3 separate regions of the Homo sapiens genome follow, and all the other regions are reported to be linked to region 1. Evidence: microRNA targets listed by miRTarBase, many of them from high-throughput screens and not tested one by one. Region 1 holds a microRNA gene; each other region holds the end of a gene's coding sequence.
What was found. The annotated mature microRNA hsa-miR-188-3p reads CUCCCACAUGCAGGGUUUGCA and lies in region 1 at 2,855-2,875, opposite strand. An mRNA with a match to its seed (bases 2 to 7 or 8) in the 3' UTR can be bound and repressed. Matches are read on the target gene's strand: a 7mer-m8 pairs with bases 2 to 8, a 7mer-A1 pairs with bases 2 to 7 and ends in A, and an 8mer does both.

Region 2: the mRNA of TM9SF3 is a reported target of hsa-miR-188-3p. Seed matches in the 3' UTR shown: 7mer-m8 at 6,145-6,151.
Region 3: miRTarBase lists NSUN4 as a target of hsa-miR-188-3p. Seed matches in the 3' UTR shown: 7mer-m8 at 1,753-1,759 and 7mer-A1 at 3,190-3,196.

Annotation. Positions count from the first base shown.
Region 1 is chrX:49,998,392-50,006,430 of GRCh38, reverse strand. MIR188 (microRNA 188) reads right to left here and starts at 2,928; the gene lies at 2,843-2,928. All of the region lies in intron 3 of CLCN5 (chloride voltage-gated channel 5), which reads right to left. MIR532 (microRNA 532) reads right to left here and starts at 3,283; the gene lies at 3,193-3,283.
Region 2 is chr10:96,515,629-96,523,667 of GRCh38, forward strand. It overlaps TM9SF3 (transmembrane 9 superfamily member 3), which reads right to left. Exons shown (of 15, transcript NM_020123.4): 15 at 2,482-6,702. The coding sequence ends at 6,635. Among named protein-coding and RNA genes, the nearest start is that of TLL2, 5.7 kb to the left of the region's middle.
Region 3 is chr1:46,360,884-46,368,922 of GRCh38, forward strand. It overlaps NSUN4 (NOP2/Sun RNA methyltransferase 4), which reads left to right. Exons shown (of 6, transcript NM_199044.4): 6 at 687-4,135. The coding sequence ends at 963. Among named protein-coding and RNA genes, the nearest start is that of NSUN4, 24 kb to the left of the region's middle. RefSeq lists a silencer at 3,820-4,020.

The sequences.
Region 1 (8,039 bases):
TAGGAGAGGTGACAGGCACTCTCTGCTCTGTGCATAACATACCATCTGTGAGTCCTAGCCCAGGTGTACTGCACTGGGACAGCACTTGCATGCGGATGCTACAGATTAAAGAGGCAGTGTCAGCATATGTACCCAACTCATATGTGACAAAGAGGGAAGAGAGGGCTCAGTCTCCTACTCCTCTTTCTCTCACACTTCACATGCAATGTATCAGTAAACTCAACTGGCTGTAACTTTAAAATATAACCACTTTTTACTACCTTCACCACGATCACCCTGATGTAGGCCTCCATCCATCTCTCAACTGAATTATTTCAATGGCCTCCTAACTGGTCTCCCAGTTTCTGCACTTTCTCCTCCTATTTGCCATACAACAGTCAGAACCATACTTGTGAAGCAAAGACACAGAAAACTGTAATCCTGATTTTGAATCAGAAGTATAATGGAATCATGATGTATTTATCTAGAAACAAGAAAACACAAAAACAAAACATTTTTCTGTTCTGATCATTGTAGAAGCCTAAATACAATGACCAATCCAGAGGCAAATATGGTCTTTAAATATCATGTCTGATTAAAAGAAACCAGGGCTTCTTGAAGACATGGCAGATTCCAGGCCTGGGGAAGGTATCTGCGATGAGCTTTGTACATTTTTTTCATCTCTGAAAGCGGAGAAGCTATCAGATAACTACGGAGGCATGTCAAAAGGACTGAGGAACCAATTTGAAGAAGCTCCTACTGGCTAAAGATGGGGCACTGGAGCTTCACTGAAGGCAAGAACTGCAATGGATTAAAAGTCCAAATATATTTAAATCTATGAGTTTATTATAATAGTTTTTTTAAAAAATCCTCTTTAGAGTAAGCTAGTGAACCAACTCATTATTCTGAGTACTGATAAATAAAGAGAACCAAACATTTATCCTATCTTGCCTATAAAGACGGCAACACTGGGTGATCAAATAGCAGATGAAGGGAAGTTTTTCTTTATAGAAGTATTCCAGCTAATAAATCAAGAGAATAATGGGATTAGAATATCATCATTTTGCAACCCCTAATGAAATAACGGCTCTAAGAATTGAGCATCGGTGGCAACTAACATCACAGAAAGATGATCATCAGTTATTTTGTGCCTCTTAATGGAAGTAGTTCTGCTCCCCCTTCCTCAAAATTAAGCCTGAATTTGATCAGGCTTCCAGATGCAACTATCAGTTTACAGGAAATACAAACAAGGAGAAGGAACATGTAAACTACATCACAGGGATGTGATCACAAAAATCCAGACTATGCAAAACTGTATAGGATGAATGGCCCACTTTCTTCCAACAAATAAATTATAAGGAAAGAAAAAATATAGATGGAAGGGAAAGATATAATTCAAAGGGACTTAAGATACATATCAACCAAATGCAATGCATGGACCTTATCTGGATCCTAATTTATGATATTTCTGAGACAAGTGGAAATGGGAACAACAGATATGTGATGATATTAAAAAATTGTTGGCAATTTTTTTTCTTTTTGAGATGAAGCCTCGCTCTTGTCACCCAGGCTGGAGCGCAGTGGCACGATCTTGGCTCACTGCAACCTCCGCCTCCCGGGTTCAAGCGATTCTCCTGCCTCAGCCTCCCGAGTAGCTGGGATTACAGGCACCTGCCACCAGGCCTGACTAATTTTTGTATTTTTAGTAGAGACGGGGTTTCACCATGTTGGCCAGGCTGGTCTTGAATTCCTAACCTCAGGTGATCTGCCTACCTTAGCCTCCCACAAAGTGCTGAGATTACAGGCATGAGCCCCTGTGCCTGGATGGTAATTATTTTTAAGTGTGATAATGGTATGATTTTTTTTTTAAAAGCGGCCTTAGATTTTAGAGATACATAGTAATTATCAGCTTTCCCTTTTTCCATTGTAACTTACTACTTCCCAGCCCTATGCTTCTGCCACAATGGCTCTTTGTTGTTCCTAGAACACAGTAGGCCTTTCCTGACTACCCTATTTGATATCGAAACTTCTCCACCACCATCTATGCTGTAACTACCCCCACCCACTCCTTGTCCCCTTTTCCTGCCTTATTATTCTCCAGAGCACTTATCAACAATTGGCACACTATCTATTACTTACTTATTTTGTTCACTACCTGCCTCCCCTCACTAGGGCAGGGATTCTTGTCTTTTGGTCACTGGTGTATCCCTGGTGCATAGGGGAGTACCCAACACACAGTAGCTGCTCGATAAATATTTGCTGAATGAATGAGTGGCTCACCAAATGAATCGGCTGCAAATCCTGGGTCTGGGGAGATAACAGAGAAAACTCACAATCTGACTCATATCTACATGAGTGTCTAAGAAGACAGATCTTCACACACCCTCTTGAGCAAACAAGTGTGCATATGGAAAGGCATGGCACAGTGAGTGGATTCTACTTTCTGAACCCAAAATGTGTGTGCATATTACATCTTTGCATATGGTTATGATATAGACACAATTTTCCTCACAAACTGGGTTTGTGAGAATTAGCTAGAAGACTCCCTTTTCATCATGCCCCATGTACAGGAGTCCTGAGAAGGTTCTCTCTCCTCCTCTAGGTGCCGCTAAGACAGAACCAGGTCAAAAGACCCCCCTTCCTTCTCTAGGCTGTGCCTATCCCTGAGTATGAGGGGCTGCACCATGTGCAAGAGAAAGCTAAGAGAAGTCTCCCTCTCCTGCAGGATCCATGTAAGACTGAGATGGGAGAAAGGACATGGCTGAGAGTCATTCTCCTTCCCACCACATGGGTGTGTGTTTTTCTTTTGGTGAAGGAGTGCGTATGTGTATATACACATGCACAAGAGAGCAAGGAAAGCTGAGGCTCGCCATCCTGCAAACCCTGCATGTGGGAGGGGTTTTCAGAAAGCTCACCCTCCACCATGCAAGGGATGTGAGAGAGGGAGCAGGGAAGGGCTTGCTCTCTTGGCACGACATATGGGTATGCTCTAGGAGGCAAGAGGCACTGGCCTGGGGGGTGCAAGTGGGCAGCAAGATAGCCACAGGAGTGCTGATGGGTAAACTAGGAGCAGTGGCCATGGAAGCAGGACAGTCATCCAGATGGGATGGCTGCTAACAGTGTACCCCACATACAGAGCACGTAAGAGAGGGTCTACCTCCCTTTGGTGTACCTGTCCATGTGCTCATGCCTATGCACTGGAGAGGGAAGAGAAGGCTCGCTCTTCTGCAAGCCTTGGGTGTGGGAGGGTAATTAAGATGCCAACGGTCCTACACTCAAGGCATGGAGGAGAGAAAGCAAGTCGGGAGGTCTGCTCTCCTGTATACTGTGTGCATGCGTATCCCAGATGCCTTGGACTTCTATGACTGTGCCCCAGACATGCTGTAATGAGAAGGTGTGCTTGTGTACATTCACATATGTACCTTCAGAAATGTTCACTATCTACAACATATTTGTTTTCCTTCCTTCTTTCTTTTCCTTTATTTTTATTCCTAACACCAGTATAGTATTTACATTTGCAGAGCACTGTTTTAAGTGCTTTTCACACATAGCTCATTTATTCTCATAAAATATCCATGAGGTGATCATTATCCCTATTTTACAGATGAAATAACACACATACGAGAACAGATGGTAAGAAAGCTTAGAATCTGGCATGCAGGTCATTAGAAAGAGGACTCAAAAAAGGAGGCTCAAGCTCTCAGCCACCAACCACTTTGTGTCCACACACACACCACACACACACACACACACACACACACACACACACAGAGAGAGAGAGAGAGAGACAGAGACAGAGACAGAGACAGAGAGACAGACAGACAGACAGACGCAAGAGAACTTGCACTTGTCAGCCCAGGGAAAAGCTGGATTAGTGTGGAAATAATAGAGGAAGTGAGAAGTATGAGAAGTGGCTGTGTGGTCAGATTAGACATGTATTTTGAAAGTAGAGCCAACAAGATTTGACAGCAGTTTGTATTTGGAGAATGGAGGGGAAAAAGTGTCAAAGATGAATCCAAAACCTTTAGCTTATTAAAATTCTCCATATCCTTGGCATATGCAATTGGGAAATGCTGTTTGCTGAGTTGGAGAACACAGAGGGAGGAGTAGGGCTTTTTGAGAGGGGGAGGAAAACCAGGACCTCAGCTTTGGATGTGTTAAAGTTTTGAGATACTTATTAGACATTCGGGGCAGATGTCCAGTACATAGTTGGACATAGGCATCTGGAATTCAGGAGAGAAGTCCAGGCTGGAAATACAAACACAGAAATCATCCACATAAAATGGTACTTAGAGTTGCAAGACAAGATGAGAACAGCTGAGGACTAATGAGAAGTTAAAAAAAAAAAAAGAAGTCTGAAGACTAAGCCCTATATCTCTTTAATACTTAGAATTCAGGAAGAGGAGGAGAAACCATCAAGAGACTGAGAAAGAGAGGCTTGTGAGGTAAGAAGACAACCTCATGAGTGTGGAATCCTGGAAAGCAGGTAGAGTCTCAAGGCAGAGGGAGTGATCAACTGTGTGTTGATCTGTCAAGTAAGATGACAACATTGCCCAGTAAATTGGGAAATGTGAAGGACACTGGGGACCTTGACCAGGGTCATTTAAGTGCTGCAGGTTACAGTTTTACATGGAGGGTTTTCAAGAGTAAATGGGACTAACATTTAAGTCTTTAATCCATCTTGAATTAATTTTTGTATAAGGTGTAAGGAAGGGATCCAAGGACAGAAAACCAAACACCACATGTTCTCACTCATAGGTGGGAATTGAACAATGAGAACACTTGGACACAGGAAGGGGAACATCACACATCGGGGCCTGTCATGGGGTGGGGGGAGGGGGGAGGGATAGCATTAGGAGATATACCTAATGTAAATGACAAGTTAACGGGTGCAGCACACCAACATGGCACATGTATGCATATGTAACAAACCTGCATGTTGTGCACATGTACCCTAGAACTTAAAGTATACATTTAAAAAAAAGAGTAAATGGGAGAAATAGAAGTAGAGATGGAGTACAATCAGCTCCTTCAAAAAAATTTTTTTTTTTTCTGTAAAGAGGAACAGAGAAATGAGTAGAAACTGGAGGAGCTTTTTGGGTAGAGAAGGTAGTGCTTTTTAATTTTTAAAATTATTTTTAGACAGGATATGTGGCAGCACATCTAGATATTGGTACAAACACTCCAGTATACAAAGAACAGTTGATGATGCAGTAAGGAGAGGGGGATCAATTGCAGGAGCACTGTCACTGAATAGGTGACAGGGGTTGAAATCTAGTATACAAGTGGAGGAACTGGTCCTGGCTACATGTGCCAGTAATTCATCTACCATAATGGGGAGGAGCTGACACTTAGGGACATGTGCAGGTAATGGAGGAGAGGTCAGAGGAACTTCAGAGGGTCCCTTCTGATGGCTTCCATTTTCTCAAGGAAGAAGAAAGCAAAGTCAGCAGCTGAGAGTGAGGAGGAAGGAAGGGAGGTGACACTGCAGATTTGAGGAAAGGAAAGAATTATGAAACAGTCATCCAAGGCAGTACTTCCCAAACATTTTCAAATAATGGGACCAAGCAGCTTAGGTGTGAGTTTTCTTCTATGGAGAATCAGTTGCTCCAGGCAAAGCATATGGATTAAGGAAGTTTATTACATGTTAATCCCAATACATGCGTCGCCTCCTTCAGTGCTTATTACAAACCTATATGGTTGGCACAATTAGTTATCTCATTTTCATGTTGTGGAAATTGAGACACAAGATAAGTCACTTGTCTAGGATCACAAAGCTCATTACAGATCACGCCAGGATTCTACCACAGGTAATCTGACTACCAAGACAGTGGGCCTAACCACTGAACCCTAAAGCTGTGTGTACCCACATGTGTATGAGAACTGAAAATGATAAGGACCCACTTTCTGGCACATCCTTGGCACACACATGTGAGATGAGGGAGGAAAAGGAAGAGAGAAAGAGCAAGGATGGAGAATAAGGAGGCTCAAGCTCCTATCATAAATGTGTGTGGGGGCATGCACAGAAAAGGGGTAATAAGGTGGCTGACACAGTGGTTCACACGCCACTGTGGCCCAGCCAGTGTGTGCATTGGGAGGTTGTAATAACCTCCCAATTGGGAGGTCAGTTTTATTTTAGGTTAAGCCATGCGTGGGGTAGGAGAGTGGCAGCAATAGAAGGCTCACAGTCCTGCGATGCTGGATGCAATGGGGCAACTCAGGTGTCTCCCTTACATGCATATCATGAGTGTATGCACATGAGAGAAAGAAAGAGAAAAGCAGGATTAGAGAGAGAGGCTGCAAGCAGGAGGCGGATGGGGAAACCCACAGTCCAACAGGTTTGGGGAAGCATATTTAAAATAAAAAGCTCACTGTAGTTCTGTGTGGTCAAGGTGGGATGGGATAGCTTGAGAGGCTTGCACCCCTGCATGGGGCAGGAGAGCTGGGGGAGTGGAGAGCAGAGACAGGGCAGATATAGGAAGAATGCTCACTGATGAATCCTAGCAAATTTTTAAAATATCATAAATTTCATACTATTTTTACAATGTAAATAACTGTCATTCAAACAATGCTCCACAACCTTTAAAACAAGTAAAAAAAGGGGCTTTTAATGTACAGACTAAGAAAGCAAATGTATTCGTTGTAGCACAATTCTCATATTCTATTCCGCAGGTATCAGCTGCTTGACAACACCAACTATAGTGAAAAGAGCCAAATATGTGTTCACACTGACACTTTTTCTTTAGTCTTTAAACTTGCTGGCCAACAGAGTATAGCTTAGAAACTGCCCACCATCCTTAATGGATCAACTGCCATTTCTGAACTTATTTTTCCCCTCAGCTAAAAGGGGCAGATTATTTTTTTTATTCCTCAACACATCTACCATACAAAGCAAACACTAACAGGCCGAAGGATTCATCTCCCTCGTGGTGTACATGTGTGTACACATGTGAAGGCACATGTGCCTGTGCCAGAGCCAGTTTTTTTAGGCCCACTATCCTTCAAATACTTCAACTCAGCAAGTTAAAAAAAAAAAAAAAAAGCAAAGTCCACTCTCCAATAATGCATGCTTGTGGGAAGAGCACTAAGAAGGCATGCTGGGTTTAAGAGGCAGGGCACAGCTCAGAAAGCTTGCACATCTGTAAACCTCATGTGTGGGAGGGAACTGAGACAGCTCACACCCCAATGTGTGAGGCATGTGAGACAAACAGGTAAGGAGTCACCTCCTCTCTCCCTCACAGACAGAGGATGTACACAGACGTAGGTCTAAGGAGGCGTGGGGTGATCAGGAGCCTCATCATCTTGTACTCCTGTGTGCATCATCTGTGTCGGGGGTGGGGAGGGTGTCCCATAATAATGCTCACTCTTGCCAACAAGGCCTGTAAGAAGGGCACTAAACAATCTCGACTCTGGATGCTGGGTGAAAAAAAGCAAGGGGGCACATAGCCTATGGCGGGGGGGTGGCACTAGAAAATTCACTCTCCTGTAAGTTGTGTATATAAGAGTGGAATTAAAAAACACACACACTACCATTCAAGGCAAATGGGAGGGTGAACACATCAGATGTCTCAGACTGTGTGTGTGTGTGTAGAAGACTCAAGCCAGCAAACCCTTTGCAGTGTCATGCATGGGTGAAGGAGAGAAATAACAAGAAGGCAAGATGGCTTGCTCTCCCACAGACTCCACAAATAGGAATGGGATCAGGAAAGCTCTCTCTCCTACAGTCAAGACATATAGACGAGTGGTGGAGTCAGCAGGTTCTTCTTTCTGGCACTCTGAGTGTGAGAGGGAAGGAGGGAGGGAGGGAAGTAGAGAAGGCACATTAAGGTTCATTTGCCTGCAAACTTAAAATGTGGGAGGGGGATTGTGAAAATCCACACTCTGACACTTTGGGCCCGAAACGTACCAAGCAGGTCAGAAAGCAGGCGTGCTGCAGGCCTGAGGTAGAAGGCTTGTTTATCTGCACATTTTGTGTGGATCTGCTCAAAAGGAGGCTCACTTTGCAGCACTACGTCTATGTGGGTGCCCACAAAATGGCAGGAGCAGAGGGGGTGGTGAGA
Region 2 (8,039 bases), not on the chromosome of region 1:
AATAGACATGAGAGGCCACCTCTTGTGCAAGCAATGAGGTTGTGAGCTTTTATGACCTCTAATGCCCAGCTGGTGAGTAGTGGCCAGGTCTTCTCACCAACACCCTTTGTCCAAATATTTTGAAGACAGTGGTGTTGAAGAATGAACAAGCTGCACAGTTTTATGTTATTAAAGTAGAAGGCCAGTTTAGTTGCTACTTTGGCTATCAACCAATAAATGGCAACAAAATATTTGGTTCACTAGAAAGATCAGAAAAGAATAATTGAAAAGGGACACCATAAGATAGAACTATAAAAGCTAAACTCTAATCTGGGTTTAGATGATTTTTATAATGTATTTTTCTTTAATTTAAAAACCATGAAAAAACTGGAGGTAGAGTAACAGGCTTTATGACATAAAACTGCTCAACTTAGCTCCATTATTACATTAATAATTACTTCAGGGTTTCCTCTGCCATATCTCTGGGTCCTCTGTGAACCTGAACAAGTGTTTTTCTCCTCTTAGATGTCCATCTCCCACCCAGAGTAACTGGGTTCTCTTGCCCCTTCAAGTCTACTGAGTTTTATCCACCTGGGCCACTTTCTCATTTTGCCTTTCCAAGCGACTATACATGATAATTTGTTCCAGGCCAGCTCATTCCTTCATTTACATTGCTCACCACTGAGAAGATACTCAGTTTTCTGGAGAATGTAATTAAAGATACTACAATTTTTAGCAGCTGCTTAAAACCCTTCCTGGCTCTCCAAAACCTTTATTCAAGTTCTTCAGGGTGGCATAACAGGTCCTCCGTCCATCATCAAGCCTTCCTTTCACCTTTCCAGTCTTGGCTCCTTACAACTCCCACATTCCAGTCTTCTGGCATTAAAACACCCTGCAGTCATCCTAACAAGGCTGCTTCACACCCTCCATGTCTCTGCCTGGGACACACTGATAATCGCATATCCCACATCCTCATGCCAGCATTGCAGCTACCCTATCTGTGACACTTACCTATCCAGGACTGCCCTTTCTGGTCTATAACTGCAGCAGACCTCTCTGACCAACCCCAACTTAGAATCACCTTCCATGTCTCACTTTCTAGACTCTCCCTTTTCTTCACTGACCTTCAATATTAAGTCTTGCAATCCTAGTGGCTTAGACTGAGACACTAAGAATAACCATAACATTGGCCAGCCCCACTTATATCAATTTTCCCCTGCAACCATCTCCCACATTTTTTTCCTTTGAAATCGCTGTCAAGCAAAGTAATCGTGCAAACTTTGAAAATCATTTCAAATAATCAAGTAATTTAAAATACATTTGTAAACTACACTGATTCCACATGTCCCAATTAGGCTTATTCCCCCCTTTTCTAATGTTATATTGCAGAGTAACAGTTCCACAAAAATAGTTCACTTGAAATCAAGAAGCTGGCTGCATACGAGTCCCTTCTGTCCTTAGTTTTCCAACCAGACAAAAAGTGTTCATTAAAGAAATAAAAAGTAATCCAAATTTGTACCAATGATGTGGCTAACGGGAATTGCCAAGTACAGGTGTTGACTGAGGCACCTAATAAAACTAGGGGAAAAGAACCAAGGAGGTTGGTCAGGATTTTTAAAAACTAGTCAGAAACGGAAAAACAAAACATACAAATAGACATGGAGAAATTAACCACTGATTTCAATGTGGCACAATAAAAATAATCTCTTCCATTCGTATAGAACACTAATTTTCAATGTGACTTCTACATATATTACCTGCCTCCCAGGCTAGAGAGGGTGACACCCCCATTTTACAGTTACAATAGTCAAGACAACAGGGCCCTGAATCTTGATGACTTCTGGGCTAAACATAAGAGCACCTTTAGCTGTGGTTTCTTATCCATAAAACACAGCTATCTACTCTACCAGCTTCACAGGATGGTTGTGAAGGAACAAGTGAAACTGCTTTGAAAAAGTAGTAAATGCTAAACAAATGCAAAGAATCATCAATCAGAGGATGGCAGGCAAATAGATGGTAAAGTCTGAGTGTAAGAGTCAGAATAGGTATACAAAAAAGTCAAAAGAATGGCAATAAAAGAAAAATCATTCTTAAGAAAGACCAATCTTATTCACTGGACCATTCTCTCAACTTTACTGTATATTACAGTTCACTTTTGAAATACAAATTTAAACCTTAAATTTTAAATACATCATTCCAGGGGTTAGCGGACTATGGCCTGTGGGCCATTTTTGTGAAGTTATACTGGAACATAGCCATGCTCATTAGTTTATGTAGTCTACTATGGCTGCTTTGGTGCTACAACGATAGTTTCAACAGAGACTGCATAGCCCTCAAAGCTGAAAGTATTTACTATCTAGACCTTCACAGAAAAAGTCTGCAGACCCCTGCTTTAATTGTGGAAAACTATTACTAAGTTATTCATTTGCCTGTCAATAATGGGTTATCCCTTATGCTTGGTTCATGTTTCAAAAAGGAAAGAAATAAGGAATCCAAAGGAAGTACATTTAACTTTTTATTACTTTTTAAAAATCCAAATTCAGATAAATTAACACACTAGGTTAGAACCTCAATTGTATTTGATACATTATATACTGGATTTCTATTACTAAAAAGCCAGTTGGAATATGGCCTATACGAACCAAAGAGTGTATACAAAATGGAAGTGGTCATCAGGCAATAATTGTTTCCTTGGAACTCTGCACCGACTGTCCATGCTCTGTGGGGACTTACACATTCAAGTTTGACAGTTGAAAAACCAACTGGAGCTGCTTTTCCAAGAATGTTCTGTTGTCCTTCAAATAGAATTCCATGTTATTTCTTTCTTGCCTTAAGCTCTTATATCTTTCAAATGACCTAAGCTGATGAACTGGAGTAAACACAAACTGCTGCAGTTATCAATTAGCAAGCCTAGTTCACCAATACTTCAAAATAAACAGACTTCACAAGTTTATTTCCATTCCTAACAGTGGAATAATAACTTAATTTTGTTTACTTTTGTCTTTGTAGATTTCTGTCTGCAGCTCCAGTAAGAATGCCAAATCAGATGGCTTTTAGGAAATGCTCATAGGAGAGAACTAGAGTTATTCCTCACACTGAATTTAAGTCTTACCAGATTTCTGCAGGTTCATATGTTAACGTTCTGATCTAGCCTACCTGTAAGTCTAGTTTATTTCTGTACACACTTCCAAATACTCTTCATAAATTTTCACTTCTGACTGAAATATAACACCTTGATTGATAGTTTCATAACTATAGAATTTTAGTGAAGATATAAAACATTAATGAATACTTGTGTTTTAATACATCACTACTCCTATTTATTACATGTTCCAATAAACCAATAGAATGAAGCACTAAGACACGGTGAAATCTAAACTTAAAACCCAGATGGAACTGCCATATAGATTACAAATGGGTCTCCCCACCACAGAATTCATATACAAAAGCCCTTCGGTATGTAGCTTTTCCTGAACAAATACATTAATACACTTTTTGTTTTTTACATTTGTAAAAATTCAAGGTTTTAATAACATTTCTTTGCAAGACATTTGGTATAAGGTGGTTAATAAATATTAGGAAACAAACACTGTACCAAAATGGATATGACTTGTGAATAAACCCTAAATAAAGTGGCTTTTGGAAGAACTGGATTTTGCAGCAACCAACTTTATAAAGAGGTCCATCCACTCTCAATGGAAAACACCCAAGCATACCATTCACTAGGTTCGGATATCACCATAATATAATGAATTCTAAGAGTATGGGGTTTGATTTATGGGCAACCCCAGTACAATCTAGGAGCCCAACATGATGAAAAATACTAAAAGAATGCTTCACCATCCCTCAGGCCATTACATTTCCACCTTATCCTACTCTTGTATTAGGATATATGTATACAAATGTCAACTACTAATGTAGTTAAATTTCAGGAGAAGCATGCTTAAAGATACACAAGGAATGTTTAGCCTTAGTTTTTGATAGTATTATCCAAAGTGTGAGTTGAAAGAAATTAAGCAAATAATGTTAACAAACGAAAGACAGATACACAGCATTAGTGGGGGTATAAAAACCTCACCTTTCAATTAACTTGAATAATGTTCTATTTTCTATTCTACAACTGAGCGCTAGGGAGCTAAACTATTTGTGAATTACATCTTCTTTAAGAAGACACACACACACGCACACACATACATACACTTATTCAACCCCTCTATGCAGCCAAAAACCAATACAAGTCCTTTTCTAAAAGACTTTAAAGGTGATTAATATTCATTTAATGCTCTTAATGTATTTGGAAATCAGAAAATTATTTTTCACCACAGATTCCAAAGAACTTCAAATAGAGCTCAATTTAGTAGAAAGAATTGGTGTACCTGAAAGCATTTAACCCACACATTTTCAATAAACCCTACATCTTACCTGCAAGATTCATATCATGAGAAACAAATTTCATTTTATTAAGACAAAACCTTACTGTCCAATTTATACTCCCATCAGACAGACTATGTATTGGTATGTTAAAAGTACTTTTGAATAAAAGTGGTGAGAAAGAAACCAAAAAAGTACTTTATATATAGTTAAAAGGTTACATAATATAGGCAACTAAATATTAACTTTTAGTTTCTTTTTTATAAGATCTTAAAGGCAAGTAAGAAGGAAGAGAAAATGGAAGTACCAATAAATTATATTTAATATACCATTTTGGCTTCAGAAGAGGATTTACCTACAGCTTCTGATCAAATTTGTTGGATCATATCAATCATACTTAAGTGGTAAGAAATCATACTTTTCACCTTTTAAAGGACTTACATGTCACAATATAGGATGTAGAGTCCATCAATAGATAGGTACATATTTTGTAATGAAAACATCTTGTGTAACTATTAATTGCATGATTTTCATATTAAGGTTTAAATACAGGTGTTTTGAGTCTTTCTAAAAATAACAATATAAAGTATTGTTTTAGGTGGTCATTTGCATAGCAAACTATTAAACTAGAAACTCAGTGGTTCTAGGAAAACTTCATATTATGAATAGTTCCAGAAAAATGTATTCAAATCACTTCTCTTACAAAACTGTAACCTTTATTTGTTGATCCAACAGTACGTTAACCACTTTTACCCCATCCCCACTTTACACGGTACACCAACCTGAACAGATTTTGTGCCACAATTTCATTCAAAGGGTTTGTCATTCACTTTATGATTGTGCTGGATAATCTAGATGTAAGCAAGTCTGGAGATTTTAAAATACGGGTCCCCTGTATGAGAGTAGCATAGTTTATAGCATACTTTTAAAAATGGCATTCGGTAATTTTGCCTTCTGGACAGAAAGATATCTTCAAATTGCAAACACATCTATTTCCACAAAACAATTTGGTCAGGAAATTTTATTTGAACATTCTAAAGCAATAATGCTTTAGATGTTACTTAAGTGTCCCAGACAGGATTAACAAAATTAAGTGTCTCTAAATTACAAATTTGGCTCCTGTAGGAGTCTCAGAAAATAAACAGAAGAAAACAACCCCCCTCCCAAAAGAAGTATGACACACACATTTTGAAGAAACCCCAATGTTTCATGCAATGGTAGGCAAGATGTAAAAGCCCACCCAAATCACACATTTCTACACCAATCATCATAAGAAAAAAGTACTCTGTAGTCGATCTGTACATCCAAATGCATTTGGGAATCTACACCTACGTTACATTATTTAATGTTATATACATTTATTACCCACCCCCCTTGTTTTTAATAATTTCTTATGTAAAACCTTCATTCAAACCCAAAAGATTTAAGACTAACTTGGGGGGAAAAAAGATAATCACTTTAGACATTCAGTTAAAATGTAGTTTATCTAAATCTCAAAATGTTTAATAAAAACAAGTATCTTCTCCATTTAACACTTTGCTTTCTAACTGTACAGTAAATTGCATTGTAGAGAGTACACTTCTGTCTTCAAACTGTATCTTCTTTGGATGGAATTAAGATGTAACTGTATAGTTTTAAGATAAATAAATGGGAAGTTGGTCCAACTAAGATGACAGCAGATATATTACATGCAGGATTTAATATTTTCTAATTCTCTCTTTTAAAAAAAAGGATGCTGTTGGATTGGGAAAAAAAAAAAGTCAAAAAAGAACCCAGATTCAATATATAAAAATGTCCCACAATAGGTCGACAATGGCAGTAAAAATAAGAGGAAAAAAGTAATCTTTCTGGAACATCATTTTTCAATAACATAGAAACACTAAGTGCCAGGAAGATTCCTATTCATGTAATTTTAGCATCCAAGTTTCCCTCTATTTATTTTATTGGAACAAATGCTTTAAATAAACTATTTGTCCTCTTCACTGAAGAGAGCTGGTCTATTTCATCTTTAATGAGCTAGTTTTTGGGAAGATTAGCCATGTACTGTAGTAATGCCTACTGCATAAAATCCAAGCATTTGCTGTGAACAGTTGGAGAAAGCAGTCAGGAAGAACCTAGGATCAATGGAAATAGATGTTACTTTAAGCCACCGACGAAAGAGAGACCCACAAAGTACCCAGTGTGTTAAAGCCCAAATCTCTTCTTGCGTTTGTTTGTTTTTGCTGTGCAAGTTCCACCCCTATGAAAAAGAAATTGATCCAAAGTTCCAGGTTTTCTTGGGTCTCTAGTCAATTTTCACATTAGTATAGATTTTTCGGACAAAGGCACTTGTTCCCATGTAACCAATCGCTCCTGCAAAGATAAAATAAGATGTTTTGAAACAAATACATACAGAGCAGTATCCATCATTTAAAAACACTAAATACTCTATGCTCTGGAAAGTTATTCTTTTTTAAAGAAAATATCCTTATGTTAGTATTCTCTCTGAACTTACTAAAACTGTATCATTTGCTTTGCAAATCACCTGATACCATAATACACTGAGTCTGACCATCATACGCCAAGTCTAATCAAGTAGCAATTATTTCTTGTATAATCAGTAACTACAGAATTAAAATACATCTCTTATAAAGCAAGAATAATTTGATAATGGCAAAAGGTTGTTAAATCAAAAAACATGCCTTCTTTGATTTGAAGATATACTATTCTAGGTCATTAAAGTAAAAATCAATATATCTTCCCAAAATCCAATAGATAAATAGTTAGAAGTGACTGAAAATTCTCTTAAGGAAGGACAGGGAACCATGTCCCAATAGCAGTTGAAGCTCTAGAGAAGAGGCATTTTCTGACAGCTTCTTTTTTATTTTTAAGTTGTAGAAGCTGTGTAGTTGGTAGTAGGGATGACATATTTGCGGGAATAGACAGGACAGAGAGGTAAGTGGGTCAGAAGTTTTGAAATGTTGTTTTTTAACAATTAGCCTCAACCAGAGCTTAAAACACCAGAAATCAGGGATGTTTGTTTTGTTAAGTAAAATATTTATCTCCTGTGTCTAAAAGAGTGCCTGGCATATAAGATACTTGGTAAATATTTGTTGAATGAATGAATGAACTAGATGGTTCTTTATTGCAAATATAGGTTGGTGCAAAAGTATTTGCAGCTTTACAATTACTTTTGTACCAACCTACTAAGGGCTCTTTAGGACAATGCAGTTGGTTATTGAACTGTCAGAGAAGAAATCTCCATTGGCCTCAGGAATTTATGATGTAGCCCAATATTATTGAAAGCTTAAAAGAAAACCTTCCATTAATTAGTAATATTAAGTGCACACACAAATGCCTAGTCATCCTTGAACGAATCTTTTAGTGAATCTTTTATTCACTAAACTGGTGAATGAAAGGCAAGAATCAAGCATCTCTCCTGTTTCTCCTATGTATGAACTATACCCCAAGGCTACCAACTGGTTGATGAAAGGAAGGTTATCCTTATGGAAGTATTCCAGCTAACAAATATAAAAGGAACAACAGAATTAGAATATTATAACCACTAATGAATTATTTGAGCTAGGCAATAACTATCAATGGCTGCTAACTTCACAAAGAAATAGAACCAGAAATTATGTGCTTTCCTGATAAAAGCTTACAAACCACCTGTTAAACATTCTTGGACAAGTATTCTTGAGTATGATCAA
Region 3 (8,039 bases), not on the chromosome of region 1:
GGGGACTGGAAGCTCTTACCAAGACCATAACCCACACAAGAATCTTATGGCTGGAGATCTGCCTAGAGGAGACAGAAATGGGATCATCTCTGGAACATAAAAACCCTATTTGAATTAGCTGGGTGTGGAGATGCACACCTGTAGTCCCAGCTACTCAGGGGGCTGAGGGAGGAGAATCACTTGAACCTAGGAGGTGGAGGCTGCAGTGAGCTGAGATCGTGCCACTGCACTCCAGCCTGGGTAACAGAGCAAGACTCTGTCTCAAAAAACAAAAACAAAAACAAAAAAGCAACCCTATCTAGTAGGATATATATACTAGAGTGGGCTGCACAGATTGACTCATGCTATTTCATCCTCAGTACCAGTGAGTAGCACATGTTTGAAAAATAGCTGCTAGAGTAAGGACTCATTCTATAGCCAGCATAGCAATTTGGTCCATAAACAAGAGCTCAGGGGGTCATTGTAAGGAGACTTCCTAGTGAAGAGCTCATGGAGTAAGGTTGGGTTGCTATCTGCCTTGAGAGTGACTTTTCAGACAGTGTCATTGTGGAAGGGACTTGAGAGGCAGTCTAACCAGCTACCCATCCTGTAGTAGCCTTCCCTTATCCATGTTTCCAGCTCCTTATGTTGCTCTTCTACTGCTGGGAAGCTCACTAGTAACTGCTTCTGTCTCTTTCTGGTTTCAGGGCTGGACTCCTTGCCACCAAACCAGGAGGCCATGTTGTCTATTCTACCTGCTCACTCTCACACTTACAGAACGAGTATGTGGTGCAAGGTGCCATTGAGCTCCTGGCCAATCAATACAGCATCCAGGTACAGGTGGAAGATCTGACTCACTTCCGAAGGGTTTTCATGGACACATTTTGTTTCTTCTCATCCTGTCAGGTTGGGGAGCTGGTAATACCAAACCTCATGGCCAATTTTGGCCCCATGTACTTCTGCAAAATGCGTAGGCTGACATAGTATCACCCAATCCCTGAAGCAAGAATACAAAGGGTATACTCTGTTGGATGCACCAGAAACTGGAAACTGGGACCAGTGGCAGAGATGCACTCTCGGTCCTGTCTCCATCCTGTTCGTGTCTTTCTGCAGTTTTCGGCAATAAGAAGTAGAAGATTTGCTGTCCTGCTGTCCAATTGTGGAGCATCAGCAGGTTTCCAACTCACTCATTAACCCCTACCCCATCTCCAGGCCTGTACTAAAGTTTGCTGCCCGCTTAGGGGCTTAGAAGGAGAAGCCAGTGAGCAGGCTCACACTAAGTTGTAAACATAGGAGAAGCATTTGGCCAATAAAGTTGTTGAAACTCTATAGACCTGGGGCTGCAGTTGGGGACTTCATGTCAGTGCAAATGCCATTAGTTCCATTTGTACCAGCCAGTTACTGAGCCCCTGTCACCCTTGAAGTGAGTTCCACCTGACCAGTCTTGAGCAGCCAACAGGCTCAATTAAGCCCGCCTGGTTTTTCCATATGGCTCATGATCTAATTTAAGGAACAAGTAACTAAAAATGTTAAGCCAGTGCAAAATAATCTGCTTACCTACTCACATTGGAAAAACCCTCTGAGCTGAATAATTCTGGCCATTCCTGCTGTCAACAATACTGCTGCCCAAATGTGGCTTAGGAGGCTGCTTCTGCCACAAAACCGTCATACTCTTGTGCGTGCCTTGTTCTTTGTTCATTCATCTAGCAGGTATTCCCAGACCTCGTGTATGACAGGTAGCTAGGGAGCTCTTGGAGATGTAGCAGTTGGGATTGTGGGAGATTACTGGGCTTCCTCATCCTTTAGAATGGTAACTCTCCTTTTGCTTTCTGAACACCTAGGAATTTCCTGATGTTTTGTTTTGTTGGATTCCAGACTTTTTGTTGTTTCTAGTCTGCAGCTGAGCTCTGGTGCCTGTTCTTTGGCCCACCCCCTAATCCCTAACTCTTCCCTCAGCATCACAGGGCTTCACTGCACACACTGTGTTCAGGGCAAGATTTCATCATTTACTGACTGCATACTCGATATGTTGTTTTTGTAACTTTAGCCAAAAGAAAGTAACCTTTAGTGGCAGGGATATAAAAAATTGCTCAGGGTCACTTGCAGATATTTTATTTTTAAACTTTTTTTTTTTTTCCTGGAAAACATCCTGTGCAGAAAAGGGTATATAATTTTAGAATACCTGAAGGCTTCTTGGCTTTTCCACTTTCCTTATTCCTCCTCTTCCTGCCACTCTTTTTGTCCCTTCTGTCTTTCCTGCTCATCCTTATTTGGGTATTAGAGGTGTCAGTTGAGGAGGGACTTTAGCTGAGGTTAAGCCTTCTTTTGGGATTTGCATTGTAATTGAGGGCCCTGGAAGATCTCTGAGACTCAAAATCAGGTGAAGCTAGGAAGATGGAGCTTTAAGGAGCATGGCTAGTGCTCTGAGTAGGACCGTAACCGCCTCCGTGCGTGGCATATGGTCCCTGCATGCTGTTCACTCTGTATAGTACTTAGTATTCGCTGAGGCTAAGAGGCCTCAGGTGCCTGGGCTTCTGCCCTTGGACTCCTGGATATCCAGCCTAGTGCTAATTGAATGCTAAGCAGTGGTAATTCAAAATGAGAGGGTCCCCTGCCTCTAGAGTCATCATCTAATTGGGGACAGGCAGACCTAGATAAGAAAAGCAGAGAACTACTTTGGAAAACAGTTTATCTGCTGTAATTGAACATTCAGCTACCCTATAACCCAGTTAATCCAATACTGGGGATAAATCCTAGAGAAACTCATACATGTACACCAGGAGATGTGTACAAGAATATTCATAGCAACCCTATTCACAAAAGCAAAAGCCTAGAAATAACCCAGATGCCCATGAGCAAGAGAGTGGACAAGTAAACTGGAATATTCACATAATAGAACATTATACAATTGTCAAATGAACTATAATGATACCTAACCATATGGATGAATCTGAGCAATAAAATAATTAAGTGAAAAAAGTTTAATCCCAGAAGAGTAAATGTAGCATGATGCCCTTTCTAAATGAAAGGTTTTTTCTTTTCTATGGAGTTATTCTTTACATACAATATAGTTCATAAATTTTAAATATATTGTTTAATAAATTTTGATAATTGTATATAATAGTATAGTCACCATCAAGATGTAGAAAATAGAAAATAGGCTAGGCACAGTGGCTCACGCCTGTAATCTCAACACTTTGGGAGGCCAAGGTGGGAAGATCACTTGATCCCAGGAATTCTAGATCAGCTTGGACAATGTAGTGAGACCTGGTCTTTACCAAAAAAAAAAAAAAAAAAATTAGCTGGGTGCGCTGGCATGTGCCTGTGGTCCCAGCTACTCAGGAGGCTGAGGCAGGAGGATCACTTGAGCACAGGAGTTTGAGGCTGCAGTGAGCAGCCTGGGCAAGAGAGTGAGACTCCGTTTTGTGCCACTGCACTCCAGCCAGGGTGACAGAGTGAGACTCTGTCTCAAAAAAAAAAAAAAAAAAAAAGGCATTGGGATTTATAATGTGCTGTTTAAAGTCTGAAGCTCGGCCAGGTGCGGTGGCTCACGCCTGTAATCCCAAAACTTTGGAAGGCTGAGGCAGGTGGATCACCTGAGGTCAGGAGGAGTTCAAGACCAGCCTGGCCAACGTGGTGAAACCCCATCTCTATAAAAGTACAAAAGGGCATGATGGCAGGTGCCTGTAATCTCAGCTACTCAGTAGGCTGGAGCGGGAGAACTGCTTGAACCTGGGAGGTGGAGGTTTCAGTGAGCCAAGATAGCGCCATTGCACTCCAGCGTGGGCGACAGCAAGAGACTTCATTTCGATAAATAAGTAAATAAATAAATAAAGTCTGAAGCTCCACTGGTCACTCCTTTTATTGATTATTTGCAGCTGGTCTAACCAGTTACGTATGTCTGGCTTGATTACATGGCCAGAGCAACATAAAAGCCCTGCTGGGAACTTCTGATTTGAGCTCTTCCAAAACCAGGATGGATGCCTCACATAGATCATGATGATTCAATCCAAAGGCACTTTGCAGTGCAGTCCACATGTGCATAAGGACCATGGGGAGCTTGTATTTGGGAATTCTGAGATTCCTGATGTTTACCTACCTAGTCTTTCTCTTGCTGCCCTGTATCCTTTGCCTTTAAATAAAAATCTTAAGTGATTATGCTCTGTGAAGCCTGGATAATCCTTTCAAATATTTGGTCTTGGAAAATTTTTGCATATATACATGGAATCATACAATATGTAGTCTTTGGTGTTTGACTTCTTTGACTTAGTGTAATGTTTTTGAGATTCAGTTTGTTGTGAGTATTAATGTTTTGTTCCTTTTTATTGCTGAATTGTATTCCATGGTGCAGACATACCACCATGTTGTTTATCTGTTCACCAGTTGATGGACATTTGAGTTGCTTCCAGTTTGGGGCTATTATTAGTAATGCTGCCAATACCTTTTGGGCATATAATTTTGTGAGTACGTGTTTTCTTTTCTTTTTTTATTTTTTGAGATGGAGTCTCACTCTTTTGCCCAGGCTGGAGTGCAATGGTGCAATCTCAGCTCACTGCAACCCCCGCCTCCCAGGTTCAAGCGATTCTTCTGCTGCAGCTTCCTGAGTAGCTGGGATTACAGGCACCCACCACCATGCCTGGTTAATTTCTTTGTATTTTTAGTAGAAACGGGGTTTCGCCATGTTGGCCAGGCTGGTCTCGAACTCCTGACCTCAGATGATCCACCTACCTCGGCCTCCCAAAGTGCTAGGATTACAGGTGTGAACCACTGTGCCCAGCCCATGTTTTCTTCTGAGTAAATACTTAGGGGTAGAATTGCTAGGTCATATGGTAAATGTATGTTTAACTTTATAAGGTACCACCATACTGTTTTCCAAAGTGGATCTACCATTTTGCACGGCCATCAGCAATGTATGAGAGGTCCATTTGCTCCACATCTTAGTACTAACACTTAGGATTATCAACGTTAAACTTTATTGTAGTGGGCCGGGCAGTGTGGCTTATGTCTGTAATCCCAGTACTTTGGGAGGCCGAGGCGGGCGGATCACTTAAGGTCAGGAGTTCAAGACCAGCCTGGCTAACATGGGAAAACCCCGTCTGTACTAAAAATGCAAAAATTAGCCGGGTGTGGTGGCACATACCTGTGATTCCAGCTACTTGGGAGACTAAGGCATGAGAATCACTTGCACCCAGGAGGTAGAGGTTGCAGTGAGCTGGGATTGCACCACTGTACTCCAGCCTGGGCAACAGAGGGAGACTCTGTCTCAAAAATAAATAATAAATAAAAACTTCATTCTAGTGGATGTATCTTGATACCTCGTTGTGGTCCTAATTTGCATTTCTCTAATGAGTAGTGATGCTATAAAATTAAATACAATTAAGAATTTAAAAACATGTAAAAAGAACATGTATGCAGTAAAACCATGTAAGAAGGAAAGAATGGTTCTCACTATGGAATTCAGTATAATGGTTCTTAGAGGTAGGGGGATAGGATGGGGCTGGAGGGAACATAAAGTTAGATTATTGTTAAGGCTCTAGCTTTTATGTTTGGTGCTTATTGAATTATTAAAAGCAGCTAAGTTAATAAAAAGTTATACATAAAAATTTGTTATTCATGACAAAAGTGATAAAAGTATGTTATAAACAAAGATTATGATTAATTCAATTTTGTACATCTGAGGTCTCCCTAAAAAAAGAGAAGGGGGTTGGCTGGGCATGGTGGCATGGTGGCTCATGCCTGTAATCCCAGTACTTTGGGAGGCCAAGGCAGGTGGATCACCTGAGGTCAGGAGTTCGAGACCAGGCTGGCCAACATGGTGAAACCCCATCTCTACTAAAAATACAAAAAAAAAAAAAAAAAAAAAAAAAGTGGGTAGAGAACCAAGCCCACAGAGAATAATAATGCAAAATATGGCTTAATGTAGGAGGGATCATATTGAGAGACCTGGAAGCTTAGCAGTATTGCCTCAGTCTTGTTCATGAGCTCCTCTTTCCTTGTGATTTGCAACAGTTGAACCACAGCAGAGGGTCAGGTATTGGGGCAGTTATGGGTCAATATACATTGATAGCTTGGATCTATGGTTTTCACCTTTTAGGAGTCACAAATCTGTTTGAGAGACTGGTAAAAGCTTTGGCCGTTCTCAGAAAAATAAAGACAAAAAACACCATAGCATTTTACATATAATTTCAGGGGCTTTGGTACTTCCTAAGGCCTATCTCCCCCAAGTTAAGAACCTTTGGATTAGAAGATCTCAGATTTGAGGGTCTTTAGTGGAAGGCAAGGGGGTCAAGCAGAGACCCCAGTAACAACTCAAATCACCACTCTCACCCCTGCCAATCTGCCCTTCTTCCCATCTGCATTCTTCATCTCCAAACTTAACACCACCCTTTACCCTGCTGCCCATGCCAGAAACTGCAGCTATCCTTGATGCAGTGACAGTAATCACTACTGTATATCGAACGTACCTGAGCCAGGCCCATGTGAAAAAAGCATTGTTTTACTTACATCATTGTTTCTTACTTTCACAGAAACCCTGGGATATGCTCTTTTTTGTTGTTGCCTATTTATTATAAAACTTTGAAAGAGTTATTCGTTAATTTGAACATTTTCATCCATTTTGTGGCTTTTCTTTGCACTATTTTTATGGTGTGTTTTTATTGCAGGGCAGGCAAGCCTCAAAACTGGGGCTTAGCCTGGGAGAAAGCCAGGAAAGAATTCAAGGGCAAGCTAGTGGTGTTAGACAGCAATCTTTTATTGAACAGTACTGCTCCTTGCAGAGTAAGGCTAACTCATAGGCAGCAAATCCAGAGTCAGCTGATATACTCTTTTTAGTCCCATTTTATAGAGAAGGAAACAAGCTTAGATTGCTTAAGTAACTCAAAAAGTTACAATCTGAAATTTCTTTTTTTTTTTTTTTTTTTTTTAAGACAGGGTCTGGCTCTCACCAGGGTGGAGTGCCGTGGTGTGATCTCGGCTCACTGCAACCTCCGCCTCCCAGGCTCAAGTGATCCTCCTGCCTCAGCCTACTGAGTAGCTGGGACTACAGGCACATGCCACCGCGCCTGGCTAATTTCTGTATTTTTAGTAGAGATGGGGTTTCGCCATGTTGCCCAGGCTGGTCTTGAACTCTTGAGCTCAAGTGATCAGCCTGCCTTGGCCTCCCAAAGTGCTAGGATTACAGGCATGAGCCACTGCGCCCAGCCACAATCTGAAATTCCTTTCTTGAAATGTCGCTTATATTTCTCTCCTTCCTAGCATTCCTACCTTAGGTAGGGCCTTATCATTTCTCACTGATCAAAGGCAGTAGCCTCAAAACTCATTTCTATTACTCCAATCAGCCCTAAATTCTTCCATTCTCCCCCATCCTCTCATGCCACCCCTTATCTGTTGTGTGATCGCCGATCACAATAATTCCTCCCATCCTGTCCCAGTACAATGTGACTTTGCTGCTTCTGTCATTAAGAGATGGAGTCTGTTTCCCCACCTCTTGAATCTGGGCTGATCTTATGATTTGTTTTGACCAGTAAAGTCTGGTGGAAGGGATGCTGTGCAACTTCTGCATGTAGGCCTCAAGAAGCCTCGCAACTTCCACGCTCATTTTGGAGCTCTTCTGCGGCTCTGTGAAGAAGCCTGGACCAATCTGCTGGAGACATGTGCTGGAAGCTGTCTTAGACCTCCTAAGCTCAGTTAAACGGTTAGGTGACCCAAACAGCATGAGTGACCCCAGCCAAGACCAACCTAAATCGCTGACCTCCAGAATCATGAACAAATAAAGTAGTGGTTGTTTTAAGCCAGTAAGTTTTGGAAATGGTTAAGTAAATTTAAATAAAATTTTAACATATGTCATTTGTGTTAGTAAGTAACACAAATCTGAGTGTCATTCATCTGCTTATAATTCTTTGTTCTTTAGGCTGGGCATGGTGGTTCATGCCTGTAATCCCGGCACTTTTGGAGGCCAAGGCAGGAGGGTCGCTTGAAGCCAGAAGTTTGAGACCAGCCTGAGCAACATAGGGAGAACCCATTTTTACAGAAAGATCCTTTGTTCTCTCTCCATTGCCAGC